Linked DNA regions of Homo sapiens. The protein of the gene in region 1 purifies or fractionates together with the protein of each later gene. This does not show direct contact. Each region holds a gene or a part of one and is shown on either strand. Other genes may lie near its edges. The genes, in order: ELFN1, OXSM and SIGLECL1.

What was found.
Region 2: the proteins of ELFN1 (region 1) and OXSM fractionate together in Homo sapiens (co-fractionation; one large-scale study listed by BioGRID). This does not show direct contact.
Region 3: the proteins of ELFN1 (region 1) and SIGLECL1 purify together in Homo sapiens (co-immunoprecipitation; one large-scale study listed by IntAct). This does not show direct contact.

The regions. Positions count from the first base shown.
Region 1 is NC_000007.14:1,668,712-1,672,461, forward strand, and holds the start of ELFN1 (protein ELFN1 precursor), read left to right. Parts: upstream 1-1,565; 5' UTR 1,566-1,643; exon of another isoform or gene 1,644-3,470; intron 3,471-3,750. UniProt on the Homo sapiens protein: Postsynaptic protein that regulates circuit dynamics in the central nervous system by modulating the temporal dynamics of interneuron recruitment.
Region 2 is NC_000003.12:25,788,491-25,792,240, forward strand, and holds the start of OXSM (3-oxoacyl-[acyl-carrier-protein] synthase, mitochondrial isoform 1 precursor), read left to right. Parts: upstream 1-1,599; 5' UTR 1,600-1,657; exon of another isoform or gene 1,658-2,326; intron 2,327-2,499; 5' UTR 2,500-2,530; coding exon 2,531-3,507; intron 3,508-3,750. UniProt on the Homo sapiens protein: May play a role in the biosynthesis of lipoic acid as well as longer chain fatty acids required for optimal mitochondrial function.
Region 3 is NC_000019.10:51,257,495-51,261,144, reverse strand, and holds part of SIGLECL1 (SIGLEC family-like protein 1), read right to left. Parts: intron 3,404-3,650; exon of another isoform or gene 3,245-3,403; intron 1-3,244.

The DNA.
Region 1 (3,750 bases):
CCCAGGCTTGCAGTATCTATCTGGTGGGTAAACAAGGACCTGCTCTTGGCCTGCGGCCTGGCTCTGACCGTGGTCCAGGTCGGGGCAGAGGGAGAAAGGCCACAGCTTAGGTGTTCCAAACCACCGGTGCCCTTCCTGCCGGCCCCTGGGGCTGTGCTGGGTTTCCAGGGCCCCTGCCCCCCAGTATTTGCATGAAATCGTGGGGGCGCACTGGCTTTCGTCCTAGCACTCCCCTTCAAGGCTCTGCACCCCTATCACGGGAGCCCCACCCAGCCAGCCGAAGGAGGCCACAAGCTCTAAATTACTAAATTCGGGCCAGTGCTGGGGGCCTGGGAGCCAAGGCAGCTCAGAGCCCACTCTCCGATTCTGGCTCCTGGAGAACCCTAGGACCCGGGCGTGTCAGGCCCTGCAGCCGGGCTAGGCCGGTCCATACAGGACTGAACGGCGTCGTGGGCGTTCATTCACATTCCCTCTCCGGTCCCCACACACTATAGGATTTATCTTGATTTGCTGCCTTTGAATTGAGTCAACTCTTTTGTATGCTCGTTGAATTGCCCAGCTGCTGGCGGCGAGCGGAGAGCGTGCCGGGGGTACTGAGGCCGGGAACCAGAGGCGGGCGGGGGACAGGAAGCGGGGAGGGGGCGCCGGCGGGGACGCGCGGGCTGCGCGGGGACTGGAGAGGGTCCCCAGGCGCCGGCCGTTCTGCGAACGCGGGCTTGTCCAGGCACCGCCGGGGCCTGCCCGGCCCGAGCGTGGAGTCCCGAGGCTCCTGCCGGGGGTCCAGGCTGCCCCTGGGGCTCTGCCTTCGACGCGCTGTGTAGGGCCAGATTCTGGGCCTCTCTTGACTCAGTTTCCCTTCCTGTAACATGCGGACGGGGGCTTCCGCACAGGCAGGTTGTCAGGGTGAAACTGAGCCGAAGAGTGCTCCAGAACCCCCTGAAGTCCTCACAGAGGTTGGGGTGAATGAAGGAAGGAAGCGGGGCCAGGGCTGGGCAGAGGAGGCCCGGCCTGCGCCCTGCGTTCTCCGCCCCTAGGTCCCTGCCCTCCCGGATAAGGGGCGGACCGACGGGAGGACCTGAGAACGCCTTGGCTTTGCTTGAGGTGGTGGGAGTCGCGGGTAGCTTGTTCAGCCAACAGCTGTCGCCCCCACTCCCCCCACCCACCCACCCACCCCCTCCACCTTTTAGATGTGGGCGGGGAGGGCCGGGGACGGACCGCGAGGACGCCCCCTGCGCTTTCTAGGACCTCCCCTCCTTCCCCAGCCCCTGCGCGTCGCCGGGAGAGGGAAGGAGCGGGTTGCCGCGGGGAGCCGAGGAGAGCAGGGGGCTCGGGAGGCCAGGGAGAGAAGGGGAGGGCCAGAGGCTCCGAGCCGGACTCGCGGCGGAGGAAGAGGGGGTGGAAGGGAGCGCGCAGGCGGGCGAGGGAGCGAGGGAGGGAGAGAAGGAGGGAGGGAGGGAGGGAAGGGGGGCGGGAGGGGGCAGGGCGAGCTTGAATTCCCCCCCGGCCGCGCGGCGAGGGGCGGGGCCGCGCGCGCAGATCGATGGGCGAAGCTGGGGAGGAATTTCAATCCCGGGAGCGAAGTTAGAGCTTGAAGGACGGCGGCGGCTGCGGGCGCAGCCCCGGAACCGAGGCCGGGCGGGCAGGTAAGCGGCGAGCGCGGCCGGGCGCTGAACCTGGGGGACTTGGGACCCGGACCACCCCCGGGGAGCGGCGCGGCCAAGCCCCCCGCCACCTCGAACCCCGGGCGTCCCCGAGTGCGCAGCGTGCGCCCCCAGCCCCTGCTGCGCCCCCAGGCCTGGCGCGCGATCCGAGCGCAGCGGGCAAAGTTGGAGGAACTTGGCGGCGGCGGAGCGGGCGCAGGCTCAGCCCGACAAAGCCCGGGGGCCCGGGTCGGGGTCGCTGCCGCAGCCCGCACGCTGCCCCGTGCCTCCGAGAGGTCCCTTCCCCAGCGCCTCTCTCCCTTCCGTCCCCCTTCGCCGTCCGCACCCTGCCCGGCGCCCCCCAGACGCGGCCCCCTGCCCTTCCCTTCCCGGAAATTAGGGGGCTGTCCTCACCTCCTGGCCGAGTCGCTGACCCCTCCCCAGGCTCGCATCGCCCTCCCTGCTGGGCCGCCCTCCCCCCGACGCTGCGAGCCTCCTCGCTCCGCGCGGGGACCGTCCAGTCACGCACGGGGAGGGGTCACATTCCTCGGTCCCAGCCCCTGAGTCCAACCACTGGCGGGGGGGTGGGGTGGGGGGCTTCGCTCCGAACTGAACTTACTGGGTGCTTTCCACCCCTCGCCCCACCTGGAGTCCATCCTCGTCCTCGTCCCTCTGGGGGCTGGGAGGAGGCTGCCAAGCCTCCGTGCCCCAACCTGCCTCTAAAGACAAGCGCCCCCATTTCCATCCTTTGAAACCTGCAGGTCACCTGCTTGATGCTGAGGGTGGGGCGGGGGGCACTGCCTGCCGTACCGCACACCGCCCCCCCCCCCATAAAAACGACACCCTCTGAGATGAAAATCCGGCTTTTCCAGGTCTCAGCTGTGTGACCTTGGGGCAGGTGAATCTCAGAGCCTCAGTTTCCACACCTGTGAAATGGGGCTAGGATGATCATGCCTTCTGAAAAAAACGAAGGCTTAGCAGAAAGGGTCGAGGCCGGCCGAGCCAGGTGTGCACGTCCTCAAAAAGCCTCCGTGCCAGCACTTTCCCTTCCTGCACACCCGGAGTGGGGCCTCTTTGGACCCTGGCTTGGGCTGGCTGCCTCTGCCGCTCATTCCCTCGATTGGGCTAAGGGCTGTGCGGAGAGCCTGGGGACAGAAGCTGTGGAGGGACCGGGAGCCAGGAGCAGATGTAAATGGCAAATCTCCCCATATTGCCTCTCTCAGGGGCTGCCCCCTAGAGAGGCCCCCAGCCTCCAAAGAGGTCCAGCTTGCACCCAGCCTTGGGGGAAACCCCATTGGGTTGGGCATAGGTTGCTTGAAAAGCATCAACATGCTCCTCTTCTCTGCCTGGCTGGCCCCCTGGCCTCCTGCCCCCTGGGTCCCTGCCCCTGCCACCTTTTAATTGAACAAGCATTGAGAAGACTGGCTTACAGGTCCCAGCCCAGGTTTGCGCCCCACTCCACCAAAGCAGGGGGACAAACTCCAGGGGGCCGTGTGTGGGAGGGGGTCACCCCCTCACCTGGATTTGAGGGGGTTTGGAGCCCAGCCAGGACCCCAGCACTTGGGTCCCTCATTTTCCTGGGCATACGGTGGTCAGGGAGTTCTGATCCCCACCCCTAGTGGGCAGAAGACCTGGGGGTCTCCAAGTCAGAGATTGGGGGCCATGCCCCTCCCCCTGTCCTACAGCCAGCTGTGCAGCCCCCTCCTCCTCGGCCGCAGCAGGACTGCTGTGTGCGTATAATTCAGGATGATACAGCAGGCTCGGCAGGCAGCTCCCGACTCCCAGAAAAGCCAGTGGGCACCTGAACCAGAGCCACACTCCTGAGGCCTGGTAAGTCTGGGGTAAGGGTGCAGGGATGTGGTGGGCACCTGCACCCAGGACCAGAGGAGGGGAGGGAGGGCGGCGTCCCTTCCCCACCATGCCCCAGGACTGCCACTGGAAAGCACTGATTTTTCAAAGTGTCTTTGGAGGCAGGCTCCCCACACCTGGGCCAGGGAGAGGCTGCTGCTCCTCCACCTCCCTACCACGGTCCCCACCAAGAAACAGGTGTCCGGGGTCCCAGCAAGCGCCCAGGGCCAGAGCCTGGAGTAGTTGCCTGTCTCGGACCCCG
Region 2 (3,750 bases), on another chromosome or scaffold:
TCCAGATCAAAGAAAAGGTGATAAGAGGTAGATACAAAAATGATGGTCTTTTTATTTTTCTGAAAGATTTTGTCACCTCTTAGCCAAGACGATTTTGTGATATTACAAAAGAAATAGCACATTAAAACTGTATGTTTCTTATGAGTTCAGCTTCAGAGAAAATATTGTAGGTATTTTCACACTATTATTTTAAAGACAGCAATGAAAAGAGATCAAGTTTAGGTACTTACTCATCAAGTGTTACTTTATAACCACATGTGTTTGTTTTAATTCTTCAAGAAACTCTACTTTGTCACTGAATGAGGATCAACTAGAGGTGACTGGTTAGGCCTGGGACGAAGGTCAAACTGAGCTTTGCTGAATTATTTTAAACAAAATAGATTTCCAAACTCATTTAAATCCAGGACCAACCTGGAAAGCTAAGCTTGACTCACATTCTTCTGTAGGGGTAGGAAAGAATGCAGAGCACTCTACTTGGAAACAATGGCTTCAAGAGGCATTGCCCAGAAAAAACCATAAATATGACTAGAAGGTCCAGATGAAGATTCTATGCTCAACCATTTTTCTAAAGAAGAGCAAGGACAAAACTCACGCCTGGGATAGCATGTGAAAAACAGATGTTCGATGAATACCATCTTGTCGACTTCTTGCTTTTTTACATTTTCATGTTATATTTTCCCTTTATCGGTTTGCAGTCAGCTCTAAGCAAACAGTTAATGAATTTTTCACACTTAGAAACAAATGTCTCCATTGTGACAATGGAGACAATTTTTGAGCACTGTCTCAAATCTGGTGATAATTTTTTTTTAAGTGAAAGGAAGTTTATTAGGAAAGTAAAGGAACAAAGAATGACTACTCCATAGGCAGAACAGCCTGGTGACAACTTTTAAAAAGTAAAAACTTTATTACAAAAACATTTGTTTATTGTAGAAAAGCTTTATTAAATAAAGCTAAGCAAAAATAAGGAGGGAAAGATCACAATCAGTATACATCTTGCAGACCTTTAAAGAATTATTTTTGAAAAAACGGATATATACTGTTTTGTAACTATGTCTCCTAACAAATAGTCGCAACATCTCATTAATAAATATTCACCTGCAGAATTATTTTAAACGGCTGCATGGCATTTGGATGTACCACAAGATACACAACAAATTTCCTGATGTTGGCCATTTTGGTTAATTCCACTTTACTCACAATTACTAATAACGTTGCGAGCTATAGCAATAACTTTGAAACTGCAGAGAATTTCCTTAATTCTTTCTTACAATTCCAGTAGAATACGATGGTGTCCCTTCTCCGACAAAAGGGAATATTTGGGCATTATCACTGCCAAAGAAAAATGCCTTTTTGATGGGTGAAAATGCTACCTCATCGCGTTATTGGCAGGTCCTCGATTATCGGCGAGTCACTGAGGTTCCGAGAGGGGCGTCTCTGCTCACGCAAACAGCTACCCAGCCGCCTCCCACGGTCTGACCTCAGCCAAGGTGACGCGGCTTAAAGTCAACCGGCGGAAAGAGAGTCGAACGGGACGCGTGCGTGGGAAAGCGCATGAGCGTACGTGCGAGCGCGCATGAGCGTACGTGCGTGTGCGCGTGCGCTCGAGAGCGTCATCGCCCCCGACTGTGGAGAAGTGTCCGGGGTAGCCCCGTTACAGGTATCGCTGGCTACCCTCCTCCTTCGCCCCTCCTTTCCTCCTTTACATTCAAATCAAGTCGGGGTTGAATTTCGAGAGGGGAGTCCGAGGACCTGGGGCCTGATTTCTTTTTCTCTCGCCATGCTTCTTCGGGCTGTGTACATGTGTGGTGGTGCCTGAGAGGCGATACAGGGAATGGCTACACTCTTTTACTCCCGCCCCTGGCCTTCGTAGTACCCTTGAAGTGATCCACTAGTCGTAACCCCTCCTTCCACCAATGATTCAATTGGAGAAGTTTAGAGGAGTGGAAAGACTTGTCCCCTTCCCCCATCGCAAGCTTGGTCACAGAGTGTATTGCCAACCCATGTATCCAGACGCTCAGTCTAGGGCTCTTGGCCCTGGGTAGCGTTTTGAAAAGGCTGGTTATCCTTAAGTACTGAAGATTGATAAAGCCCACTTACTTACTTAAAAGAATATGCCCTGAAATGTGTTTTCTGTGCCACTGACACCAGAAATGCTATTTAGAAGAAGTTATCAGTAATCCTGACAAAGGATGCTTCCTGCAGCTCAAATCAGGCTGGAGGTGCCTTTATATTTTTCATTGAATTACTGTTTTGGTGACTCGAATGAATCATCAATTCATTTATTTGTCTTCAAATGTCTGACGGCACTTAAGGTCTAAAAAAGAAGGTAAGTTTAAACAGATAGTTTGATGTTAAGGTATAAATTGAAAGTATGTAACATTTTCCCTGTGTTCATTAGCAGCTCATATCAAGCACCCAAAGGAACACCTTGGATGTTTTTCCTTAGGCCCTTAAGCTATTTAAAAGAATACCTCCTAGGTGTGTTGTGGTCTTTTACAGGAATGTGTTTCTGATCATCTGAATCTTAATCATGTCCAACTGCCTGCAAAATTTCCTGAAAATTACAAGCACTCGTCTTCTATGTTCAAGATTATGCCAACAGTTAAGAAGTAAAAGGAAGTTTTTCGGAACTGTGCCAATATCCAGATTGCATAGGCGAGTTGTCATTACAGGCATTGGCTTAGTGACTCCTCTTGGTGTTGGAACTCACCTGGTTTGGGATCGTCTTATCGGAGGAGAGAGTGGAATTGTTTCACTGGTTGGTGAAGAGTATAAGAGTATCCCTTGCAGTGTTGCTGCTTATGTGCCAAGAGGTAGTGATGAAGGTCAGTTCAATGAACAAAACTTTGTGTCCAAATCAGATATCAAGTCCATGTCTTCTCCCACCATCATGGCCATTGGGGCTGCAGAATTAGCCATGAAGGATTCTGGCTGGCATCCTCAGTCAGAAGCTGATCAAGTGGCTACTGGTGTTGCAATTGGCATGGGAATGATTCCTCTTGAAGTTGTTTCTGAAACTGCTTTGAATTTTCAGACAAAAGGTTACAATAAAGTTAGCCCATTTTTTGTCCCTAAGATTCTGGTCAATATGGCAGCAGGCCAGGTCAGCATTCGATATAAACTCAAGGGCCCAAATCATGCAGTATCCACAGCCTGTACCACAGGAGCTCATGCTGTGGGAGACTCATTTAGATTTATAGCCCATGGTGATGCTGATGTGATGGTGGCTGGAGGTACAGATTCTTGTATTAGCCCTTTATCTCTTGCTGGGTTTTCCAGAGCCCGGGCTCTGAGCACAAACTCAGATCCCAAGTTGGCATGTCGACCATTTCATCCAAAGAGAGATGGTTTTGTAATGGGAGAAGGTGCAGCTGTGCTGGTGCTGGAAGAATATGAACATGCTGTTCAAAGAAGAGCCCGGATCTATGCAGAAGTTTTGGGCTATGGACTCTCAGGTGATGCTGGTCACATAACTGCCCCTGATCCTGAAGGAGAAGGTGCCTTAAGGTAAAGATGGGTTATTTCCTTCGAAATATTTCTTCAAATAAGACACTTTATTGGGAATCCCAAATTAGGGAAGTTGTAGTGTCTGGCCTTGGTGTACAGTATCTCTGTTGTTTTTCTTTTTTAGACTAAACAAGATTGTTTAGTTCTTTGCTTAAGACATTTGAAGTATTTCAAAGCATTTGAACATACTTACAAAAATTGCATTTGAGTTAAAAACCAATGGAGTTGTGGAAAAGACCATGT
Region 3 (3,650 bases), on another chromosome or scaffold:
CTGACATTAACAGGAATAAAGTATATATTTAAAATTTGTGTTTGCCTACTAACATAGTCCAAAAATATATAAAGCAAAAAATCTACAAAAATAAAAGGAGAAACAGACATCCACAATAGTAGTGTGACATTTTAATCACTGTTCTCTCAGAAACTGACAGAACAAACAGACTATTGGAATATATAAAGATTTCAACAACTTGATCAGCAAATTTGACCAAAAATATATAGAGAATACTGCAATCAATAACTGCAGAATACAATTTCTTTGTAAGCACACAGAGAACGTTTACAGAAATTGGCCACAGCTGGATCATAAGACAAATCTTAATAAAATTTCCATGAAAATATTTAAAATCTCATTAATAACCAGCAAAATGCCTGTTAAAACCATCAGATACCAGTACATATCCAAGACAATATATCAAGTCTTGGTGAGAATGTGGTACTCAACTTTCACACACTATTGGTGGAAATATAAATCAGGGCAACAAAGTTATTTATCAAAGCAGAAGATACACATACTCTATGACCCTCAATTCCACTCCCAGATGTATACTTTATAGAAATGTTTGTGCATATGTACGCCACAAAGGAATGCAAAAATGTTTACAGTGGTATTATTTAAAAATAGCTAAAAAGGTAAACAATCCAAATGCCAGTAAACAGAGAATTTTAAAAAATGAGATACTACACAGCAACAAAAACCTATGAGCTAATGCTAGATGCAACAACATGGACCATTCTTACAAATAAAATATTGAATGAACAAAGCCAGACACAAATAAGTAATAATGTATGAGCATTTCTTTAAAATTTGAAAAAAACCGGGCAAAATCAAGTGTTTAAGAACGCACACACAAGTAGTAAAAATCCTTTAAAAGTTGCCAAGAAATGTCCAGCATAAAAGGTAGGATATTAATTGCCTTTTTGGGAGGAAGAGGTCTGTTTCTCTGTTTATTTTATCATTTGTAGGGGGTATGAACAGGTCTTTTGAGATACTGGCTATAGTGAATTCCATAAGGCTGTACCCTATATAGGCATCCTTTTAATAGTACAGTTTCCCATTGCCCATCTGCCTGACCATATGGCCAGGCCATTGGCCACTGCCCATGAATTGGTAAAAACCCAAATGTGGAGGCAGTTCAGCCCACTGAAGTGACTTGTTTTTGCCTTCCTCAGTATGAGTGCCAGTCTTCCAAACAGGATGTTATTAATTCACTTTGGAATTGCCATCCATAAATCAAACCGCTCTTAGTTGGTCAATCAAGAGCTATTAATAGACATCATTCAAGTAATAATAGGATCTCGCAGCTCTTCAGTAGGGAAAAAGCCACCTGTTCATAAATATAACGAGGACCTCCTTGCATTTCCCTGGTAGCATGTTCCTGTATAAACAATTTCCATTTTATTACGAGACTCTTTTGGGCATGGCCTTCCTTACTACAGTGTTTTTCCAACATGACAAACACATCATGAGGATTTCAGGTGTCAGGATTATTATATCCTTCAATGATGGGGCAGACTCAAAGCCCAATAGGCAGCTAGTTGTCTCTCCATTGGAAATTTTCTGGCCCCAAATCCCAGCATTCACCACTGGGTGGTGCTCACTGGCCTTAGCTCCAGTCTGCCTAAATAAAGCAAACGTTAAGCTTCTAACATGTTTTGTCCACCAGATATCCTGTACTGTTTCAAATTAACAATTAGTGTGGGCTTGGGCAATCTTATTGGTTCCTATTTAGCATATTCAATCAATATTGGTTGAAGGGAAGATTTACATGCCTTCTGTTTCATAATAGTACGTAGGGGAACTCTTCCATAGTTGGACACAATATCTTTCCTCATAATACATTTAGGTAAATACATTCACATAACATATTTACATAGTCTGTCCAAACATTCCAATTTTCATCCAAAGTTTCGCCTGAATCTCATCCACTTTGTAATCCTATGTCTTCGCAATCTAACCATAGATGCTATTAGAATTTCACCAACCTTTTGGAATGCAGGTATAAGACTCCCACATGAGTCCCAGAAATATCTCTTATCCATCCCCTGACTATTTTACTACTAATATGCATATGACTTTGGGTCTTCAGTTAGGGGTCAGGCCAAGCAACCCAGGCCCTTTTGTCATTTATCTTGATTAGATCACATGTTCGTCCCCTCAGGAGATCTGAGGTCAGATTTCCCATTGTCATGTTTGCCTTCTGGCTTCTAAAATTCCTCCAAACTAGGGTAAATATAGCAGACTTGATGGGGGACCTTCAACACTGGAGGGCAAGTCTAGGTTCTCACTGCTCCACCTAATTTCTAAGAGTGCTCCACTGAGACCTTTGTTTAGACTCCCTCAATGTCCACTTAACTCATCTCATTTCTTAATAACTGTTTATAAAGATTTCCACCCTCTTGGAAATGTTCGTCTTTTCTCACTCTCTGGTGAACCACTCTAATTTTCTTTGCCATCTGTCATTTCAGCCTAACTTTTCCCTTTAGCCACAGCCCTGAGGCTAGCAGCTGTAGCTCAGGCTGGCCAGAGCCCAAGATTGGGCCAGCATCAGGATCCGCCTCAGCCACTTTCATTTTAACGATTACAGATAAAAATAGCCAAGGGACTGCCTATTTAGTTTGTTTCCTTATGCATCCAGTGGGTCAGCTCCTTGGGGGTTGGATCCATTGTATTGAAAAAGCAATGGTAACTTTTACCTCCTGTAACTGTTTGCAGAACAGCTGCATTTCTATACGCACAGGTGACCGCAGGACAGCCCAGGAATCAAAGGCTTATCATCTTGACTTCACATCCTTCCTCTTTTCAAACCATATGTTTCAGTGAGTCAGGGCTGTTCTAGTGAATCCCATTTCTGATACAACTGAAAAGTTAGGGAATGGTCCACAAGATCCCCTCATTTCTGACACCAACTGAAGATATCAAGGATCCCTGATTACCCTCATTTCTCAAATCATTTGCAAGGTTTTGGAACCCCAAAACTACCCTTAGGTTTGGTAATTCACTAGAAGTACTCACAGAATTCACTGAAAGCTGTTATACTCGTGATTACTGTTTACTACAACTAAAGGATAGAGATTAAAATCAGCCAAGGGAAGACATACAGGGCAGAGGCCAGAAGTTCCCCACACAAAGCTTCTAGTTATCCTCTCCCTGTGGAGTCATGGACAGCATAACTTAGCTTTCCTGGTGATAATGTGTGACAATATGCATAGTACTGTCAACTAAAGAAGCTCACCCAAGCCTTGTGTCCAGTGTTTTTATTGGGCCTCCATCGTGTAACATGGTGACTTCCCTCATGGTGGATCTTAGCATCCAGCTCCTCCTGAAGTTGAGCTGATACCATTTGATCCAAAGCCCCTATTCTAAATCACATTGTTAGACTATCTGGTATTGCTTCCACTCTAAATCACATTGTTAACATTATCTGGTGTGGCCAGCCCTCATCCTAAATCACATTTCTAGAATATTCAGTGTGATGCAAGGTCCCTGGGCAAACAAAGACACCCCTATGAGGTGTGACATTCTAAGAGCTAGGGAGTGTCTTCCAGAAGCCAAGGGCAAAGGCCAGACTTCTCTTCAGGCAAGGTTAAGTTCCTTAGTACACAGAATAAAATGTCAAATTCAGAATAGCAGCGATCTCT